3 linked regions of the Homo sapiens genome follow. The protein of the gene in region 1 purifies or fractionates together with the protein of each later gene. This does not show direct contact. Each region holds a gene or a part of one and is shown on either strand. Other genes may lie near its edges.

The links.
Region 2: the proteins of TOLLIP (region 1) and VANGL2 purify together in Homo sapiens (affinity purification with western blotting, with the first as the bait; 2 studies listed by BioGRID). This does not show direct contact.
Region 3: the proteins of TOLLIP (region 1) and IRAK1 purify together in Homo sapiens (affinity purification with western blotting; 11 studies listed by BioGRID and IntAct, with this or other methods). This does not show direct contact.

The regions. Positions count from the first base shown.
Region 1 is NC_000011.10:1,306,630-1,314,386, forward strand, and holds the start of TOLLIP (toll-interacting protein), read right to left. Parts: upstream 3,004-7,757; 5' UTR 2,870-3,003; coding exon 2,837-2,869; intron 1-2,836. UniProt on the Homo sapiens protein: Component of the signaling pathway of IL-1 and Toll-like receptors. Inhibits cell activation by microbial products. Recruits IRAK1 to the IL-1 receptor complex. Inhibits IRAK1 phosphorylation and kinase activity.
Region 2 is NC_000001.11:160,396,290-160,403,569, reverse strand, and holds the start of VANGL2 (vang-like protein 2), read right to left. Parts: upstream 3,007-7,280; 5' UTR 2,701-3,006; intron 2,396-2,700; exon of another isoform or gene 2,241-2,395; intron 1-2,240. UniProt on the Homo sapiens protein: Involved in the control of early morphogenesis and patterning of both axial midline structures and the development of neural plate. Plays a role in the regulation of planar cell polarity, particularly in the orientation of stereociliary bundles in the cochlea.
Region 3 is NC_000023.11:154,010,001-154,016,918, forward strand, and holds the end of IRAK1 (interleukin-1 receptor-associated kinase 1), read right to left. Parts: intron 6,645-6,918; coding exon 6,437-6,644; intron 6,098-6,436; coding exon 6,032-6,097; intron 4,279-6,031; coding exon 4,042-4,278; intron 3,434-4,041; coding exon 3,043-3,433; intron 2,679-3,042; coding exon 2,529-2,678; intron 1,918-2,528; coding exon 1,859-1,917; 3' UTR 507-1,858; downstream 1-506.

The DNA of each region.
Region 1 (7,757 bases):
GGTTAATTCAGAGGGGCTGGGGTGGGTCATGCTCAGCGAAGCAGGCTGGTGCCAAGGCGGGCCCTGCCTTGCGTGTGCCAGGCAACACTTTACAGAGTGCTGCGCTGAGCCGGTAAACTCCAGGGCAAGTCCAGTCCTCCTGTGCCCAGGACCCTCCGGCGGCCTCCAGCTCCTGCCTCCCTCCATCCTCGGCCCCTGGGGCTCCCTCCTCTCCACCTCCAGACCCCACACCTCTCTTTCCGTGCCCTGCCCTCCCAGCCCAACCCCTACTCCCATTCCTCCTCCGAGAGATGTCACGTCCTCACCCCAACACCCAGCCCTGGTGAGGCCCATTTACAAACTCTCCCAGCACCTGACGCTTAAGATCACAGACCCACCGGGCCGTCACCACACAGCTCAGCTGTCCTTATGTGCTGCCATGTCTACCGTGCTGCCCTGGAAGACCCCAGTGGCAGGAACCACCTGGTTGTCCCCTGCATCATGGCCATCCTGAACGCCACAGTTGGTAGCGCTGGTTGATTAAGTCACATGTACTCCAAGCAACACCTGAGACCCCCGTCGCTGACAACACCTTCTTAAGAGACCCTGGCAGCTCCGAGCCAGACCTCATGTTACTATGCGTTTACCGGTCAACGGGGGTGCCCCTGAAATACCTGCTCGTCTACATGATGGAAACAGCCCAGGAGGCACTGGGCAAGAGGAGATTCTAACGACACCTCAGCACTTGCCAGCACAGGCCCTGCGTGTGAGAACATCTCCTGCCGCTCCCACTTCCTCATCGCGGGTGTAACAGCGCTGCACGCCGGTGCCCCTCAGAACAGGAAGGGCCTGCCTCCCACTGCTCCCTGCCTGCTCAGCACCTGATGCATTCAAAATCAGTCCTACACCCCAGTGGGGTTCCAGATGAGGAACAAGTTCCCAGGAGGCAGAGGATGTCTCCCAGACCACACAGCAAGGAAGGGGCCATCCTGCCTGGCCACCATGCCCCCCTGCTCTCCAGGAGGACACAACAGCAGGGTGCTGGTTCCCTTGTTGCTCTGAGTCTCCTGTTAGGCAGAAAGGAGCACTTGGCTGCCACGGCAACTTGCGGGGACTCACTGTGGTGGAGTAAAGATGAAGAGGTAGAGACGCTGCCATCAGAGGCCGTCCAGGACCTCTGCCGACCCGTAGGCTCCACACCTGAGTCTCATAAGTGTCAGGAGGTTTCCTTCAAAGTCCTCAGAAAAAGCAGCTATGCCCAAAACCTGGGGCTTCATTCTAAACTCAGAAAAAATGTTCTACCTGAAGAATTATCTCCTCGGGAGAAACACCAGGACTTGTGGATACAGTGTTAAGGGTGGGGAGCCCTGGTGACCCCTCCACCACGTCCAGTACTGGGCTGCGCGAGGGCAGGGACCTTGGAGCATCGTGAAAAAGGACTTTTTCCACCCACGGCATGTTCAGAGCCACTGTTGATAAAAACTGTACCGCTCACGACAGCCTGCCCCAGCCCAGCCTCAGTGAGTGACACGGTTTGAATCTGTGTCCCCGCCAAATCTCACGCTGAATTATGATCCCCAATGTTGGAGGTGGGGCCTGGCAGGGTGGGTGTGTGGGTCACAGGGACAGATCCCTCGTGGCTTGGTGCTGTCCCGGTGATAGTGAGTTCTCACAAGATCTGGTCATTACAGTGTGTGGCACCTCCCCACCCCCAACTCTCTTGCTGCTTTCGCCATGTGACGTGTAAGCTCCCACTTGGCCTTCCGCCATGACTGGGAGCTTCCAGAGGCCTCCCCAGGAGCAGATGCCGGCACCATGCTACCTGTACAGCCTGCAGAACCGGGAGCCAATTAAATCTCTTTTCTTACAAATTACCCAGTCTCGGTATTCCTTTACAGCAATGCAAGAAGGCCCTAACAGTGAGCCAGGAGGCCACTCACGCCAGGAGCCCATCATCTCTGAGTCAGTCTACACCAGCTCTCCTGCAATATTAATGCTATAGAAGAAACTGCCAGGCAACTCTCAGGAGAGAATTCAGAGCAGGAAAGGTTCTCTGAAGTTCCTGGCGCCTATCCTCTCATTTGCAAATGAAGAAACTGAGGTTTTGCACGGTGGCCACTAACCGGGGACACAATTGGGCCCAAGAAGTGGTCACCACTGCCCTCACTCTGTGTAAATGAGAAAGAGGAAACAGCCATCATCTATGGGACCAACTAGAGTGCAGGCCCGCCTCCACCTGGGGGGCCATCAGGGTGCGGGACCCGCCTCCACCTGGGGGGGCCATCAGGGTGCGGGGCCCGCCTCCATCTAGGGTGCCATCAGGGTGCGGGACCCGCCTCCACCTGGGGGGCCATCAGGGAGCAGGGCCCGCATCCATCTAGGGGACCATTAGGGTTCAGGGCCCGCCTCCACCTGGGGGACCATTAGGGTGCGGGGCCCTCCTCCATTCGGGAGTCAGAGCTCGGGGCCGCCTCCATCTGGGCACCGGGCCCTCCTCCATCTGGAGACCATTGGGGAGCGGGGCCTGCCTCCCTCTGGGGCACCATGGGGCACGGGGCCCGCCTCCATCTGGGGCTCACAACGGGCGCAGGCCCCCTCCCCCGGGGCTGCCTCCCCAAAGCTCTGCCCCGGCACGGCGGTGAGCTCAAGCCTCCTGCAGCGTGGGCGCGTCCGTCCGGCCCGCCCCGCCCCGAGGTGTGGACGCCGCCGCTCCCCTCCGGCCGGCCAGGCGCCCCGCGTGCCCCGGGAGAGCCGCGGAGTCGGCCCGCCAGCCGCAGCTGAGCAGTAGCCCTGACCCAAGGCCCCGCCCGCAACCGCAGGTCACCGCCCCCGCCCGACCCTCGCCCGGCTGCCTCACCGGCCCGCGCTGAGTGCTGACGGTGGTCGCCATGGTGCTGCGGCGGCCCCCGTGGCTCGCCGACCCGACAGTGACGCGCCGGGCGACCTCCTGCGCCCCCGCCGGAGCCTGCGACGGAGACAGTTGTCACCTCGAGGCCGCCGCCGCCACAGTCAGCTGACAGCCGCCGCGCCCCGCCCCCGGCACCGCCCCACTGCGCAGGCGCCGCGCCAGGCACCGCCCCTTCCGGCTCTCGCGCGCACGCGCGCTCCAGGGTAGGGCAGGCGCAGCCTCTCGCCCGGCGCCTGCGCACCTGCTCTCTCCTCGAGCCCTGCAGCCCGGCGAAATGGCTCCCGGCGGGGCCGTTTGCGCATGCCCAGTCATGACGGTTGTCGGCGCGGGCCCTAGCGTGGCGGCGCTGCAGTCTGGGCAGTGGGTTGGTTCCTCCTCGGTCCTCTGTCGAGTGGCGACAGGGCCTAGCCACCTGGCGGGGGTGACCTTCGGACGTGCGACCCGCTCGGAGAAGGGAGGGAACTGTGGCCCGCAACAAAGCAGTGACAGGCCCGACATCCCCTGCAGGGCGATCTTTCCCTCAGCTGCCTGCCGGAGGAAGGGCCTTTCTGTTTCACAGGGCTAAAGATGGGGCGCGGTTCCTCCACGGGGCGGCTGCCGGGTGAACGGAACGGGGATGGAGGCGCTGCCAGAAGAGCCCGAGCTCGAGCCCGCCCTGCCCTCGGCCTCCCCGCCGCGCCGCTCCGCAGGAGCCCCGCTCCTCTCCTGCTCGCTCCGGAGAACCCCAGTCCGGCCTGACCTCGGCCCTCGCGGTCAGGCGCTCCAACCAGAGCGACTCCAGCTCGAACAGCGCTGGGTAAACTGAGGCTGAACCCCGCTGGCTGCATCCCCAGGAGTCGGGCGTTTACGGTCACGGGAACAGGTTAATAAACTTTTACGCAGCAGACCCGGAACTTAGGTCCCGATGTCCGGGTATCTTAAGAACAAGAAGCATTCTTAGTTGAAGTTTCGCTTTAAAGATAATGATACAGATGCTTGCGGAGGACAGGCGTTATGCAAAGATTGGCAATCCTTTGACGAGCCCAGGTAGTACAGCACGTCTCCCCCGTGATGTTTTTTGGCTTTTATCTTACATATAAACAAGCGTACCCAGGTGGACGCCTTCCTCCTCGTGCTTTTGGGAACACCCTGCTCTATGGAGTAGCCATTCTTTTATTCCTTCACTGCCTTAATAAACTTGCTTTCACTTTACTCTGTGGACTGGCCTGGAATTCTTTCTTCCACAAGATCCACGAATCCTCTTTTGGGGTCTGGATCAGGACCCTTTTCCGGTAACACAACCACTCCACTAAAAACTCTTTGTCAGTGATCTCTATATTGTTAGTGGTCAGTTCTCAGTCCTCGTCCTCCGGGAACTACAGCAAAATCGATAGTCATTCTTGCTACACATGCTTTCTTCACTCCCCATCCAGGACACCATGTGCTCTCACTTTCCTCTTATCCCAAAGACCACATCTTTGGGTCTCGGTTACCAGTCTCTCCTTTTAAAACCGGCAGCCTGGCCGCTTGCCTGTTTTGATGGGGTGTAGAGAAAAAGAACGAAAGCCCCTTCCTCAAGTTGTAGCTTAACATCCAGCCAATCCACAGCACAAGACCCAAGAAGCTATTAACCACAAGTTCCTGCTTTGGGGGCCTAGGGACTTCCCCGGGCCCCACATGTGCAGTTAGACTTATACTTCAACTATTGTTACCCCTTCCTCATTTTCACGCTAAAAATCACACCTAGGGGTAGAGATTTAAAATGTGAATGTTGCATGCAATGCATGAAGAAGCATGCAAAGCTACTGAGAAGCACTAGACAAACCCCTCCTATCCATGCCTGGACCAATCCCTTCCCTGTGAAACTAACCCACGTGCCACCCCCTGGCGGCGGGGCCCCCCACCGTTTTCCTTTCATGGTGCTGACTTCCTTGTGCACAAGCTAAATAAAGATTTCTCTTTCTCCTCGCTGCTATGTCTGCTGATCTCTCTTTATTTCTATCCTGGGAGATTACAAGATGCCAGGGCACACTGGTAACACTTTGACTCCTTAACATCGGAGTGCCTTACCTCAGGGCTCAGTCCTTGCACATCTTTTCTATCTACATCCTCAGTGAGCTCATCCAGTTCCATTCCTTTAAATGCCATCCATATGCTGATGATCCTAAAATCTGTATCTCCCACCAGGACCTCCGCTAAACACTAGATTCAGCTCTTGCCTTAATATTATTCCCCTATGGGGTGGACAGGTTGTAAGGTAGACATATGATCCCTGCCTCCTGGTGTTCACATCCTTGAATAATCCTCTTGTCTTGAGGGTGGACAGAGCCTGTGGCTTGCTTTTAAACAACAGAATATGGCAGTGGTGATGGGATGTCCCTCCCATGATTACCTGATGTTATAAAAGACTCCATCTTGCTCTCAGACTTATTCTCAAGGGTCTCTCAGCTGCTGGCTTTGAAGAGGCGAGGTGCCATAATTCCTACAACTTCAAGGAAACAAATTCTGCCAGGAATCTGAGGGGGCTTTGATCCTTCCCCAGTCAAGCCTCCAGATGAGAATGCAACCCAGCTGACAACTTAATTATAGCCTCGTAAGACCCAAGAATAAGCCAGCTAAGCTGTGCCTGAACTCCTACCCCACAAAAACTCTGAGATAAGTGTGTGTTGTTTTAAGCCACTAAGCTTACAGCCACGTGATCTGACTTAAGCATTATTAGAATTCCAGAAGAAAAAAGGAGAATGAGGCAGAAAATCTGAAGAAATAATGGCCAATAATTCTCCAAGTTAATGGTAGGCACCAAACAAAATATTTAGGAAGCAATGGATTCCAAACAAATAAACAAAACACTTAGTCAGGTCATATTCACACTGCTGATAACAGAAAGCAAGGAGAAACTCTTAAAAGCAGACAGAGGAAAATGACACATTACATCCAGAAGAATGAAGATTAGAATAGCAGACTTCTCATTGGAAAGAAGGTAAGTCATGTGAATGGAGTGACATCTTTAAAGTGCTAACAGAAAAAAAATTATATGTCAATTGAAATTTCTTGCAAAATGATATGGCGATGTATTTCAGAACAGTGGTTATCTATGTGTGTTGGAAGTGAGGGACTGGAGATTGACTAGACAGGACCATGAGGGAACTTTCTGGGGTGGTAGAAAGATTATATACCTTGATTGGGATGGAGTGGTTATACCAATGTGTAAATTTATCAAAACTCACATGATTGTAAACTTATGATTTGTGCATTCTGATGTATGTATGTAAGTTTTATCTCAATAAAAGGTTAATGACAAAAAGAAAACACTTTCAATATATATGACAGAGTTAGTCTAAATGTATTAAGAGTGCCTACAAATTTCTAAAAAGAAGACATACAGGCTGGGCGTGGTGGCTCATGCCTGTAATCCCAACACTTTGGGAGGCCAAGGTAGGTGGATCACTTGAGGTCATGAGTTCAAGACCAGCCTGGCCAACATGGTGAAACCCTGTCTCTTCTAAAAATACAAAAAAAAAAAAAAAAAAATAGCCTGGCGTGGTGGCACATGCCTGTAATCCCAGCTACTTGGGAGGCTAAGGAAGGAGAATTGCTTGAACCTGGCAGGCAGAGGTTGCAGTGAGCTGAGATCATGCCACTGCACTCCAGCCTGGGCGACAGAGCAAGACTCTTTCTCAAAAAAAAAAAAAAATGTCTATTCATGTCCTTTGCCCACTTTTAAGTGGGATTTTTTGATTTTTTACTGTTGAGTTGTTTGTATATTCTGGATATTAGTCCCTTGTTGGATGAATACTTCGCAAATATTTTCTCCCATTCAGCAGGTTGTCTCCTCACTCTGCTGATAATTCCCTTTGCTGTGCAGAAACTTTTTAGTTTAATATAGTCCCATTTGTCTATTTTGTTTTTATTGCCTGTGCTTTTAAGATCTTAGCCATAAAATCTTCGCCTAGACCAGTGTCCTTAAGTGTTTTTCCTGTGTTTTCTTCTAGTAGTTTTATACTTTCAGGTCTTACTTTAAGTCTTTAATTCATCTTGATTTGACTTTTGCAGATGGTGGGAGATAGGAGTCCAGTTTCATTCTTCTTCATCTGGATGTCCAATTTTCCAAGCACCATTTATTGAAGAGGGTGTCCTTTCCCCACTGTGTGTTTTTGGTGCCTTTGTCAGAAATCAGTTGGCTGTAAGTATGTGGATTTATTTCTGGATTCTCTCTTCTGTTCCATTGGTCTATGTGTCTGTTTTTGTATGAATACAATGCTGTTTTGGTTATGATACTTTTGTAGTTTATTTTGAAGTTGGATAATGTGATGCCTCCAGCTTTGTTCTTTCTGCTCAGGATTGCTTTGGCTATTTGGGCTCTTTTTGTTCCATAAATATTTTAGGATTGTTTTTTCTATTGCTGTGAAAAATGATGTTGGTATTTTGATAGGCATTGTATTGAATCTATAGATTGTTTTGGGCAGTATAGCCATTTTAATAATATTAATTTTTCCAATCGGTGAGCATGGGACATCTTTCCATTTGTTTGCATCATCTTCAATTTTTTTCATCAGTGTTTTGTAGTTTTACTTGTGGAAGTCTTTCAACTACTTGGTTAAATTTATTCCTATTTTTTTTTGTAGCTGTAGCAAATGGAATTATCTTCTTGATTTCTTTGTCAGCTATTTCATTGTTGGTGTATAGAAGCACTACTGATTTTTGTATGTTTATTTTATATCATGCAACCTTACTGAATTCATTTACCAGATCTAATAACTTTTTGGTGGAGTCCTTAGGTTTTTCCAAATATAAGATTATATCATCTTCAAAGAGGGACAATTTGAATTATTATTTTCCTCTTTTTTTCTTTTTTTTTGCCTTTTATTTCTTTCTCTTGCCTGATTGCCCT
Region 2 (7,280 bases), on another chromosome or scaffold:
CAGATGAGCAGATAAAAAACTGTCCTGCTCTAGGGCCAGGGAAGGGGGGATATTTCCTCAGATCTAAAAGGATCAGGAGGAGAGGCAAACACACCAGAGAGGCCTGCCCCGGAAGAATTAGAGGAAATAGAAGTCAGGAGCAAGACAATGGGTGAGGAGGGGCCAACGTGGCCACTGACTCCCAATCTGGAAGTACTTTCAGAAATGGCATTTCCTATTATCTGACCACAATTCCTCCTCTTTGGAAGAGAGCCCCCACCAGCATAATATATCATGCATGTGATCAGCGTATACAGAGCAAACAAGGGACCCCAGAGGGCCAGGGCACACCATCTTAGATGCAAGTGCCTTACTAGCCCTGGGAGCCCTAACTATCAGACAGGTGTTGGGTTTGGGGGAATGATCCATTAAAAAAAAAAAAAGGTCTTTTAAAGGTCTTTTCCTACTCTGCCCCGTTCCCCGTTCCTCGTTCAAACATTTTCTAACCCCTACTACTCTTATCTCCAGGCCTTAGGGAGGGTAGGGAGCCCTGAGGACTAAAGAGGGAACATTCCAATTGCACATGCCCATTAGAGACTCTAACATTCCAATTGCAATTGCCCAGAGACCATAATGGGTATGTACAATCTCACCTCAGCTCTTAAAACTGGGTGCCTCAACCCAGCCACTGGCAGCAAAAAGAGTGTGCAATGGGGGAAGGCTAGTATCCTAAAGAAGGAGGTGAGCAACCCCTTTCCTATACCCCAAAAGAGAAAGGATGAGAGAGGACAGGGAGAGAAGGGAGCTGTGGCTTCTTGGTGGAAAGAGACATTCACTTCCTGGATAGTCACTGACTTCCCACCACACTATCATGATGATGAGTATAGCAGTATAGCCTGCAATGGGTACCTGGCCCTTTCCCGACACACAGACACTCAGCCCTGGCCCCACACCCACAGCTCCATCTCAATCATGCTTGACACCAGGGAAAAGGGAAACTTTTTGGTCTGATAAACCACACAGACTCACTTGCAAAAGCTGCTGAAGAAACACCCTATGCCACCTTCTCAACCCCATGGGCAGGGAACCCAAGCTGTTCCCCACCAGGTCTCAACCCTCCAGACATGCTTCCTCCTCTTGTTTCCATCCCACACCAAAATCTCAAGACTCCTCAGGAACTTTAGGATCTTAGAGTCAGGGCAGAGTTAGAAGGCTATGAAGCAGCAAACTCTGAGACGGCTTTCCAAGAGAACTGTGGCCTGAAGCTTTTACCTAAGGCTGGGAATCCAAGAGTGTAGCTTCTCCAAGCGCTGGAACCCAGCCTATGACGATGGGGGAGGAAGTTCCTCTTATTCTTCTCCCTGACCCCGCCAATCTTCCAAATTCCTCTAGGACTACAACCAGACCCCTTGTTCCCTATTCCCCACAACACACGCCCTCTTCCAGAAAAACCCATCCCCCAAAAACAGGCACTTCATAAGACAACTCATTCCCTCCCACCCATAGGTCTCAGATACTTAAGGTACTACCCCTAAACCCAGGCGAGGCCATCCACGAAGTCTCAAAATCCTGCAGACAGCCTTCTTTTCGGGATTTTTGCCAGGAAAATCTGCCTGCAGAGTCTAGAGGTACCCCCGACACACACTCAGAAACATACATACCAGCTAAGGCAGGCACACACATTGATACCCATCAACACAGGTTACACACAAGAGAACACAGATTCACACCCCTTCCCAGTACACAGGTGCACACACACCTATCCACATACACTCCATTCTGCTCTTACACACCCACCTTCCTCAGTACCTACACACCTCTTTCCCGTGAACCCCTCTCCCAGTACACACACATAGACATACACGCCCTCCCCTAAGTATACATATAAACACATATCCAAACACACAGCAGATGCATGGTCAGCCGCTCCCTGGGTGCACACACACTCAAGCACAGAAAAACACCTACACATCCAAACCAGGGGCCCACCTGCAGGAACATGCAGCACGTCAAGGCGTGCACACACACCAAAACAAAGAATCATGCACACGGATCCTCCACCAACCCTTCAAAACTCACTAACGCAGAGCCCACAGTCCCCCAGATGGGTAAATATGAGTGGGGAGAGGGATGCCAGCGCCTGTCCCCTCGGCCCCTATACACAGTCTACCGCCTCCAGCCCCATCCTCGGTCTGTACATACACCCTATCTACTCTGCCCAACCCGCCCCCCTGACTCCACTCTACACCCTTAACGCATACCTGCCTCCGTCCCTCCCCACGCTCCTGAGGGGTGTATGCACCCCAAAACACCCTTGGCTTCCAATACCTCCAGACTCCGATCCTTCCACGCCTCTCCCCCCACCTCCAACACAAGCTCCCCGTCTCCGGCTTCAACCGGCTCCCCTGGGATCATTAAGGCCCCCGCCCGGGCCCAGGAAAGTCCCCGGCTCTCCAGGCCTGGGCTCCGCCCCCTCCCCACGAGCCCCTTCCCCTCCCCAAAGTTGGGGGGGGTACTCCGCTGTGCAGTGGGGAAGCGGACCGGAAGGGGGTTGCCCGGAGTCCAGCCCCCCTTCCCCCATAAGCCACCCCGCTCGCTCTGGGGTCGGGCACCCCCTGGCCCCTTGCATGATTTTCCTCCTTTTCCATTTCTTTTTTTCTCTCTCTTTCTTTCTTCTTTTTTTTTCAAACTTTGCCCGCGCCCCCGCGGCCCGGCACTCACCCGCCGCTGCGAACTGCCGGGTGGGCTCCGCGGGCGCCCCGCTCGGCCCGTCGCCTTTGTATCCGCAGCGCTCCGGGTCGCTCCGAACTCGGCGCTCCTGGACAGGCAGCGCGCGCGATGGGGGATGTTGAGGGGGGGGTTCTTGAGTCTGGTCACCCCCTGCTCCGTCCCAGACCGCTGCCTCTTCCCCCTCAAGGCCCCGGGGGCTGGGGGCCAGGGGGGAATAGGGGGCGCTCAGGCTCCCATGGCGGGACCAAGGATCAAGGAATCAAGGATCAGGAATCAGATCGGGAGCCGGCGGCGCAGGGGGGAGGGGGCGGAGGGGGAGGGGATGAGGGTGGGGGGTGCAGGGGGCGGGGGAGCGCGAGCTCCCGGGTGCCGCCTCCCGGCTGTTCCCACAGCCGCCGCCCCTCCTACCGCCGCGTCCATTGTCTGCGGCCCCGCTCTTCCCGGAGTCGCCGCTCCCCCAGCCCTGCGCCTTCAGATGCCCAGCGGCCCTCCCCGATCCTGGGAATCCGCGGTGGGGCTGACACTCGGGTCCCGAACGGTGGGCAGGGGAATGCCTCGATTCTTGGACTTGGCCCAGCCCGCAGTCCCTCCTGGGGCTGTCTTCCTGGACCCCTCCTGTCGGAGAAGGAGCCCCCAGATCCCTGGGGCTGGCCATATTCTCTTTAGGGCCACGGACCCGACTACACAAAATCCAATGGAATCTGGGACGTGGGAAGATTGATTTTTTTTTTCCCCCTAGGGGTCCGAGAAGGGAGGGTCATCCCTGATTTTAATTAGTGGCGAGAGGCGCACGCCTCTTCCCATGCATACGGGGATTTCCCTGACACCATCACCACCATATCCCCTCCTTCCAAAAATAATTTAATTACTTGGAGTTCTAGCTGCGAGCAGCGACCGCCCCAGTCAGTCTGGGACGCTCCCTCATTAACACATTTTTCCTCCCCTCTGGTTTGAGTGTTGGGATTAATTACAAAGGGAACCCTGCCTTAGGGAAGAAGGGGAGGAGGAAAAGACGCGGGCGCCTGGGAGTTTGAATGGCAGAGGAGAGGGGGCCTTCTCCCAGGAAACCTCCAAGAGGAAAAATGCCTTGGCCAGTTGGGTCCCCAACCCCAAGCAGGCAGATTGTCCATCCCAGGAGTTTCAGATACTTTAGAGTTGAAGGTGCCACACAGGGATTGTAGGATCTCACAAAATATCCTACACGTTTGGGGCATTTGTGCCTCCCAGTATGCCAAGAAACCAGTTAGGGTTCTTTTACATGTGACCCTACAAGAGTGAACCCACACCGTAAAAGCCTGGGCTGTGGGAAGTCCATGTTCCCCTTGGAGTAAGTGAAAGCAGTATTCAATTATCATTAATGTTATTGCCGTGCAACCCGCCACTTAGAGTAGTATCATTTCAAAAGCATCTTCACATACTTCTCCCTAAGCAGGCCAAGGCCTTTTCAATATCTCAGCCTCCTTCAGTTTCCAATCCTGGCACCTGCTTGAACAACCCTGTGATTAAGGAATCCCAGAGAAAGAGACTCCCAGCCTCTGTTCCTCACTTGTTTGGGAATTTTTGCTCCTCCCTGATGAAAACTATTTCCTGAGACCTAATCTCACCCCTTTTGATGGTTCATTCTAACCTGTCCAAAGATGAGGACAGAACCAACTATGCTGCATTGTTCAAAGATGCAGAACAGTAAAACACACTTCCTTTCTCCTTTGCCCAAACTCTGTCTTTCCTCATCCCCTCCTCCAGTAGTATGGGTAAGCAGGTGACTCAGCATCAAGACTACATGAAATATGCAGAATCATCATTTCAGGTACCCAAGTCCCTGCATGCGTCCAGGCACTCATTCACCTTGTGCCTATCATGTGCAGGCACTGGGCCGCACTGGGGCTCCTGGCAGTGACCACGACCAGGTGTATGAGGGAGTGGCAGGAGAGCTGGGGAAGGGTTAAGGGAAGTAGGGAGGACATGGGTGTCCCCAGCCCTGCCCCAAAGCACACCCCAGTGCTAGGCAGCTAGTGTGTAATTTGACACAGAGTCGGGGCTGCCGTGGCACTGTCTTGACTCTCAGGCAGATTTAGTGTGAATTATCTTCACATGCTGCTAGCCTGTTTCACAGACCCCAAAATGGCCCAAAGAACTGGAAAAAGGGCTTCTGATGCCAGAATTACAGATAATTCCATAGTCTGGCCCCACTGAAAGCTTGAAACCTAAGTCAGGATGTTAACAGACAAGGCTTCCCAATTAACAGGTATCAGGCATCAGGCTAGAATAAGCTTAGTCCCTCCTTTCTCTGACGGTGAGGTTGGGGGCTTTCAATTACATCTCTGCAATGAAAACACTGGATTACAGAGTCCAACAAAAAATTTTATTGGTGTGGTCTGTCCCATTCAGCAATTCTCTGTATTACCTTCTACCTTCACCTCAGGATAGAATCCCATCTGGATTTCACACGTCCCCAAGTCACTGAGTAAGCAAACAGAGACCCAGCTAGAAGGCCCATGTGCCCTATGGTCTAAGGGACCTAGCTTAATTCTTTAGAAGGAAGGAGAGCACTGAAATGACATTCAACTGAGATTTTCCTAAAGGGGCCAACCTACAATAACAGAGGGAGGCCAAGAGCCTGAGGGACAATAGAATGGAACAGATTGGATTTTGTACAGCTCCTGTCCTTGAGGACATAGTCGAATTTCTTAATTTCTTCAAGCCTCAATTTCTGCTTATATAAAAAGGGTCTAATGAGGTAACAGAAGGAACACCCTCCATATACTCATAGTGCCACAGTCAATTCCCAGTCGAGTTTCCCCTCTCTGTTCTGTGCCTAGGATACTTCTCTTAGGAGAGAACACTTCTCTAGGACACTTCTTTCAGTACTCTTCCTCGGGGAAGGAGGCCCCTAGCTAAAAGCCAGGGCCCTCCATTAAAGCCCTTTCAACACCTCACCAGCTCACTAGGTGGAGGTGGGGCTGGTGGGGTCAGATCAGAGGCTTCCCAGGAGCCCTGGGAGTTGGACCCTCCTGGGGAAGATTCAAGGAACTCAAGAAGTGACAGTAGACTCTCTCTGAGGGAAGGTCCAGACTATAGAGAAGCACCTACCTACTTCCTGTGTGGATGAAGCTGTCCCTGGAGGTCAGGCCCAGACCACAGTAGCAAAAGTTAGGTTTTCTGCTCTGATGAAAAGTAGGGCCTTTTTACAATGCTGCTCAGAGAAAGGGAATCCTTGGTACCTTACTCATAGAAGCTTCACACTATAGCAGAATGGCCATCAAAGTGTTTCCATGTAAGCAATTAGCAATTTTAGCCACCTCCCAGGTACAGGTGACTGCAGTAATGTACCCACATGCAGGGCCACAATCACCATCTACTTCCAGCCCTGCTGATGAGCCTGGGTACAAGTTGATCTCCCGGAATAGTTACAGATCTTTCCCCAGCACCCACCTTCCCAGAAAGGCTACTCTCAATGCTCACAAAAGGATTTCCAGACCCAGTCTATATTGGGAAATACCTGGGTTCTGGGTGTGAGGGGTTTCCCCCTTCACTTTTAGTTAAAAAAAAAAAAAAAAAAGAATAAAAGTAGCTCACACACAAAAAAACTTAACTGGTCAAGAACTGTATTATGTCATAGGCTTGTGGTGAAGTGTCTGTCATGTGAGATCCTGATCTCTAAGAAGAAGGACCATGCCTCATTCATTTCTATATCTCTGGCACATAAAATTCAATAAGTTAGCATTAGCTGCCTTCCCTTCTAGCTTCCTTCTCTTTCTCCCTTCCTCATCTATGAAACCTTGACCACTCCCTATTCATCCAACCTTTATTAAGTGTGAGTTTCCTCAAATCCAATCCCATTATCATTAATCTAAAATGTTACCTGCAATTAAACCAGTGGTTGTGAACTTTGACTGCAGATTTTAATCACCTGGGAAGCTTTGAAAACACATCAATGCCCAGGACCATCCCAGACTAATTAAACCAGAAACTTCTGAGGTGTGACCCAGCTATTGGCATTTTTTTTAAGATACCTCAGTGATTTTAATGTGAGAACCACTGAATGAAACTTTCTGATTTCCTTCCTCCTTCTTGGGAAGAATAGACACTCTCCAGCTCCCTTGGCTGGGACTAGGCCCTGCAGGTGTGCGTTATATCCTGTCCTTTCCCACCTCCATCCATTATTCACAATCTCTCCTGTAACCAACTTCGGCCTCTTCACTGATCTTTGCCCAGCAGACATAATAAAATGAAATACCTTCCTCCACTCAGCAGCCTCCTCTTGCTTTAGCCTTCGCTTTTATTTCTTTCTCATCCAACCTTCTTAAAAGAGTAGATTCTTAGGCCAGGCCTGGTGGCTCACACCTGTAATCCCAGCACTTTGGGAGGCTGAGGCGGGTGGATCACCTGAGGTCGAGAATTAGAGACCAGCCTGACCAACATGGAGAAACCCCGTCTCTACTGAAAATACAAAATTAGCCGGTCATGGTGGCAGGTGCTTGTAATCCCAGCTACTCGGGAGGCTGAGGCAGGAGAATCGCTTGAACCCAGGAGGAGGAGGTTGCGGTGAGCCGAGTTCGTGCCATTGCACG
Region 3 (6,918 bases), on another chromosome or scaffold:
GCAAGGTCTCCCTCTGTTGCCCGGGCTGGAGTGCAGTGGTGGAATCATGGCTCACTGCAGCCTCAACGTCCTGGGCTCAAACTATCCTCCTGGGTCAGCCTCCTGAGTAGCTCAAACTACAGGCATGCACCACCATGCCTGGCTAATTTTTGTACTTTTTGTAGAGACGGGGTTTCGCCATGTTGCCCAGGCTGGTCTCAAACTCCTGGCCTCAAGTGATCTGCCCGCCTTAGCTTCCCAAAGCGCTGGAATCACAGGCGTGAGCCACCGTGCCCAGCATCAATTGCATTTCTGTATAATATCATGATGAACTAGAAAATCAAAGATACCATTTAGAATAGCATAAAAAACATGGACTACATCAGGAAAAACCTGACACGGGAAGTGCTGGGTGTGGCCAGCCCAGAGTAGTAACAAGACCCTGGACGCTCAAGAACCCTGAAGTGTAAGGCATCAGGAAAGCTCAAGGCTTTCGGTGCAACAAAGTCCACAAGTAGAGCCCGAGATTGCAACATACGTTTTTATTACTCAAGGACAACCTGGACGTCACCAATGCCCAGCTTCACGGGGGCATGTAGTGTGACTCACGGCTGAACACAAAATCACTGTGAAGCCTGTGCTACAGCCCTGGGCTACTTTTGGACACGCAAGAGGACACTCGGTTACATGAAACCTGACTTGCTTCTGAAGACATGTGATACATGTCTTTTCCCTGAAAATGTTTCCCTTCCCTGTCTGCCATGCTCCCAACTTTTCTGCCTTCCAGGGGCTTCTCACTGTCTGGGTAACTAGGTCTTGGGCCTAGCTAGACCTTGGGTAGTGGCCCCTCTGCCACAATCAGTGCCTGGGCCTGAGGCTGAGCTTGTGGCCTCCGAAGCCTGACCTGGCTCGGAGCTCGTCTGTGGCGCCCAGGGATGGCCTGGCTTGCAGGCCACCACATTAGGCCAGCTCGCAGGTCCCCAGTAAAGCCTGAAGACACTGGCCCGAGGTTGGAGGTGGGTGCTGCTCGACTTTCTGGAGGATCTCAGAATTCTCGCTTCTTGCTAGGACTGAACCATGAGACTTACAGCCATACTTCACTTTTCCCAGGGTTTTTCTTTTTGAAACAGGGTCTTGCTCTGTCACCCAGGCTGGAGTGCAGTCATACAATCATGACTCACTGCAGCCTCGACCTCCCAAGCATAAATGATCCTCCTACTTCAGCCTCCCCAGCAGCTGGGACCACAGGCGTGCGCTACCACGCCAGGCTAATAGTTTAAAAAATTTTTTGGCAGAGACAGGGTCTCATCATGTTGCCCTGGCTGGTCTTGACCTACTGGGCTCCAGCGATCCTCCTGCCTTGGCCTCCCAAAGTGCTGGGATTACAGGCGTGAGCCACCGCACCCGGCCACACTTTTCCAAATTGTAAGCAGGTAGGAGGGCCCTAGGCCTCGTCGGCCCCATTGTGCAGGGTGGCCACTGTCCAAAGAGATGGGCAAAGAGCTGCTGCCAGAGGCCTGGGCTGCAGACGCCCTGCATGGCTCTCAGGGGAGCCAGCTCCCTACTCCACACCCCTGCACAGCAGCCCCTCTCCTCCCCTCACGGGTCTGTGCAGCCAGCAGCCTCCCAACATGCGCCAGCCTCCTCACTGGATGATGCCAGCCTTCCTTGCCCCCAGATGCTGGCATGGAGGCAGGGTTCCACTCTGCCTGCCTATGCCCACAGAGCCTAGAACAGCAGGGCCACCTCCTTCTCTCCCCCGCGGGCATGGGCCCCCACCCCCACTGCCGGCAGAGTGCTGAGGACTCGTGCACCATGAGAACTTCTGACCATGAGAACTTTGACTTCCGGATTTGGGGGATCTGCCCAGGTGAACACATCAGCTCTGAAATTCATCACTTTCTTCGGGCCCCTGCCTGTCCTGTTCCAGGCCCAAGCCTACAGAAGGAAGAGGAAAGTCCGCTTAGCAAATGGGGGAGGCTCCCCTACTGCCAGAAGCCCTGGCTCAAGGCCTGGGCCATGCTCCCTTATCTCCTGGGGCGTTCGTGGGAATTGAGGGTTTTTGTTTGTTTGTTCATTTGTTTTTGAGACAGGGTCTAACTGTCTCCCAGGCTGGAGTGCAGTGGCTTGATCACAGCTCACTGTAGCCTCCACCTCCTGGGCTCAAGTGATCCTCCCATCTTGGCCTCCAAAAGTGCTGGTATTATAGGCATGAGCCACCTCGCCCAGCTGAGGGTTCCTAAGCAGTGGTTCTTCAAATAGTACCTGGGATGGAAAATTCCTGCTGGGGCTTCCTATTTCCTGAAAGCACAGAGTGGGGCAGGCACCCTCGGGCTAAAGGAGGTGCTACTGTCAGGAGGCGAGGGAAGGAGTGGGCCAGGGTCTTGCTAAGGGAGGCATGTGGGGCCGGCTGGGCTTCTAGAGGTCGCCAGAGCCAGTGGCCTGCCCGGCTGCCCCACGCCCTCAGCGCAGTCGGGACAGACACTCTGCTCTTTGGGGCTGACACGGATGCGCCTGAGCACCCCAGAGGCCAGCCTGGGCGGCAGCACCTGGGAGGGAGCTGGACGACAGCAGCTGCAGGCTGTCCAGGGCCCCATCCTCGTACAGGGCCAGCTTCTGGACCATCTTCTGTCGGGCAGGGTTGATGATAATCTGCGGTGGCTCTGACGACGATGATGCAGAGCTGCCAAGGGCCAGTCCTGGGGTGGAGATGGCACTCCCTTAGCCTCATGCTGTGGCTCCCCAGCCCGCAGCCTAGCACCCTGCCTCCCTGGCCTCAGGCCTGAATTCCTCAGAGAAGTCCAAGGGCAGGGCCCAGCTCTCAGGCTACCAGACAGAGCCCTCCTTGTTCCCAGCCTTCAGGAATGGGGTGGGGGGAGGGCTGGAGAGCAAGCTCCACCTGGGAAGGATGTGGCCTGGGGAGGGGAAACCAGGGTTGCTAAGGTCACAGTGAGCTGAACATTTGGCCCTGGTTCTCTTCTAGAAGGCTGGGGTGGGGACTTACAGGGGCTTTGGCCCAAAGAGGCCTTGGTCCCTCTCCTGGGAACCCGTCTCCCCAGCTACCTTCCACGGCTGTGGGCCGGGATCCTGGGCCACTCCCCCAGCTCGATTCTCCTGCCGTGTCCCCCTGAGGACAGCCGGCCTCCCTGAGGGGTGCTGGGTCCAGAGGGCAGCTTGGAGTCAAGTGCCAGGAGCGCAGGGCAGCAGAGAGGCCGCCTAGGCTCTCGTCACTCTCCACGGGCTGGTTGGGGCCTCTCTGCAGCTGCTCTGCTGCCTGGGCACTGGCTCCTGATGGCGCTGCCAGGGGCTGCCATGGAGCAGCCCCACTGTGGGCTCTGCCAGTGCTGGACACGTAGGAGTTCTCCTGCGGGGAAGGGGGGATGCAGCTGGCGGCCTCCGAATGCCCGGGCACCCCCGCCACCACTGCCTGCAGCTTCTCTAGCCTCTCGTACACCTGCAAGTGGAAAAGAGGGACTCTCAGGGTGAGATGGCAGCCCTGGCCGGTCACCCCGTGGGCAAACCACAGGGCTGCTCCAGGCCGTCCGTGACCTGCCCCAGGGCTCTAAAATGACATACCCTGCAGCTGGGAACGCTCTGCCCCTCGCCCCTCTGTTCCCATCACAGGGAGTGCTGAGAAGCGCGGCTGCCAAAAGCAAGGACTGAGAATGGCCTCGTTCTTTTCTACAAAATGAATCTCACTGCCCCGCTGCCCTCAAACGGGGCCTCTCCATTTTCAACTGTCACCAGAGGAGAAGAGGTGGGGTACTAGGGAGGGGACAGAAAAAGGCAGATGCAGTAGTGCAGTGCGCCCAGCAGGGGGCGCGGCAGCAGCTCTTTCCTTCTCTCTATGTGAAGGGGGTCGGAGCTGGGCTCCGCAAAGCAGGACTGCCCGGGGCCCCTCAGTTCAGAGGGGCGCTGCCCCAAACAGAACCAAAGGGCAAGCAAGAAATGTGTGGAGACTCCAGAGAGACCTAGCAGGTGCTGAGATGGGGTCACTACAGAGCAAGGCCTGGAATGCGGGCTTTCTATCTGGCCACCCCGTCCCAGTGCGCAGCTGGCTACCTGGGTCATAGGAGGCCTCCTTTTGGCCCGGCGGTGCAGGCAGCAGCAGGCCAGCTGGCCCAGGCCCAGGCCCAGCTCAGGTGGGCAGGGCCCGGGCCTGGGGTCCAGGTGCTTCTTGTAGATCTGCATGGCGATGGGAGCAGCCCAGGCATCTGCAGCCAGACCTGCTTGCAGTGTGCTCTGGGTGCTTCTCAAAGCCACTCCAGCCTCCTCAGCCTCCTCTTCCACCAGGTCTTTCTGTGGGATAAATACTGTCAGTATGGCTACCAGGTGGCCACACCTGCAGCTGCAGTCCTCAGGTCCTTGTCACTCAATCGTATGGGTTTTGATAAAAAAAAAAAAAAAAAAAAAAGAGATGGGGTCTCGCTTTGTTGGCCTGGCTGGTCTCCAAGTAGGCTCAAGTGATCCTCCCGCCTCAGCCTCCCAAAGTGCTGGTGTTACAGGTGTGAGACACTGTGCCACAGCTCTTGGTCTTTCTACAACTTACTTTTTTTCTGAGACAGGGACTCATTCTGTCACCCAGGCTGGAGTGCAGTGGTGCAATCATGGCTCAGTGCAGCCTCAACCTCCCAGGCTCGTGATCCTCCCACCTCGGCCTCCCGAGCAGCTGGGATTACAGGTGTGTACCACCATGCCTATCTTGCTATGTTGCCCAGGCTGGTCTCCAACTCCCAGGCTCAAGCGATCCTCCTGCCTCAGATTCCCGAGTAGCTTCTAGAGATTTATTAAACACCTACTGTGGGCCAGTGGTGCTCTGGGCCCTAGGGATACAGGAACAAACAGAACCCTGGGACCCGGTTTGACAGAGCTGACTTCCTGGTGGGGGAGAGCCCCATGGAGCTGGGGTCTGAAGGCAGGAAGTAGCCTGAGAGGGCAGAGCCGAGAAGGAAAGCGCCCCACAGAGAGGTGCCCCACAGACAAAGAGGTACCCCAGAGAGAGAGGCGCCCCGCAGAGAGGCGCCCCCAGGGTGGAAACAGGACCGGAGGCCATCTCCAGTTCTGAAATCAGACAGACCAGGAGGAACCACCTGGGTGGGCGGTGGCTTTTCTCGCAGAGCGAACGGCACATACTAAGGCTGTGAAGCAGGCAGCAGGGAGCGCCCCGAGTCCCAGGGACCTGGGGCGTTGGGGGGTCAACCACATAAGGGACTGGGCCTTCACCCCAAGAGCAGAGAAAAGGCAAAGGGGCCTTTGAAAAGAGCACTTTGGCTGCAGGGTGGGGAGCAAGTGGGGAAGTCCAAGGACCCCCAAGGAGCCTGGTGCGCTTCTTCAGCAGGATGCATGGATGGACGGACGGGGAAGGGAAAGGAAGGAGGGCTCAAGCCCGGCTCCTGGGTTCTCAGCGGGGCTGAATCCTGACGGAGACCCCACAGCACACAGGAACCGCCCCAAACAAGAGGAGAAGCAGTGAAGCAATTACTGGCTGAGCACATTCTGTGAAGTCTGTTTTGCATATGGGAAAACAGGCCCACAGGGGAGCAGGAATTTGCTGGAAGGCCACTGTCAGGCTGGGGCTAAAACCCAGGTCTCTAGTCTCCTGGCCCCACCACAGTCCACGGTGAGGCAGACTGAGTGGAGTAAGACCGTGAGGCAGCTCAGGCTGCCCTGCACGGTGCGGAGAGCTCAGCTGCAGCCTGCTGGGGCCCAGGAGGTTCCTCGGGGCCTGCTTCTTCTCTACCACCGCCTTTCTCCGGCCAGAGTCCTCTGAGTTCCACTGCAGCTTGGGTCTCAGTGCCCTGGGACCGCCCTTCCCCCTGCCCCCAGCCCAGGTGGGGTCTGTACAAGGCCCATAGTGTCTGCAGGACAGACAGGTTTGTCCTCGGCAAGGTAAACGAAGTTGTTTGGAGCCCTGCCTACTTTCAAAAATGAGGCCACTGTGGCAGCAGAGGCATCCATGGGCACTGCGCCCCAGTTATCCCCGCCACTGGGGCTGTGCCTGCTGGCTGCCAGCAGCTGTGTGTCCCTCCTGGCCCTGCCTCAAGGGGCTCACCAGATACTTGGTCCTGGCACCGTGCGTCTTCACAGCCCTCTGACCAGCCAAGGTCTCTAGCACTACCTGGAGAGAGGGAAGAGGGAGAGCATGGCAGTGGCCTTGGCAGGGAAGAGGCCTCTGGTGTGGACATGGATTGGGCCTGACAAGGGTGTGGACAAAGGCAGAGCCAGATGTTATGGGACTGAAGCTCGGGCAACTCGGAGAGCCCACTTGAAGACAAATTACAAACACACAGTTAGGTGCAGGGTGAGGAGGAGGGCCTCGGAGGGAGGGGGACCCTGGAGCTGCAGCCTCCTGGGGTCTTGGCAGATGGCCCCTGGCCCGCAGTGCACTCTGCAGCCCCCACCTCTGCCTGCCTGTGGCTTCTCCTCCTCTGAGCCAGCAGAGGGGTCAGTGGCTCACCACCCCAAAGCTGAAGGTGTCCGTGTCCACAGCCAGCCTTCCCGTCTTGATGTACTCCTCGGGCAGGTAGGCCAGGGTGCCCCGCACTGTCTGTGTCCGGGCCACCATGCTGCTCTGGCTGGGGCTGGACCCGGCAAAGCGGCTGAACCGGGCCAGGCCAAAGTCTCCCAGCTTGGGTGTCAGCCTCTCATCCAGAAGGACGTTGGAACTTGGGGAGAGAAGACAGTGGCGTCAGCCCGGTCCTAGCTCCTACACCTGCCCGGCTTAGATAAGGCTGGACTCGAGGCTGCCAGCCCGGTGCCTTGCCCACAGAAAGCGCTGGCACTGCCCTGAGCGCTCCAGCTGCCTGGGGGCCTCTGCTCATCAGTAGGGCCCATCCTTGGCCCGTTCCCACACCTGTGCGATGCCGGGGTGTTGAGGTCCCAGGCCATGCCTGATCCCCACATTGATAGGACGCGGGGCCCCCCTTGCTGCAGGCCCTG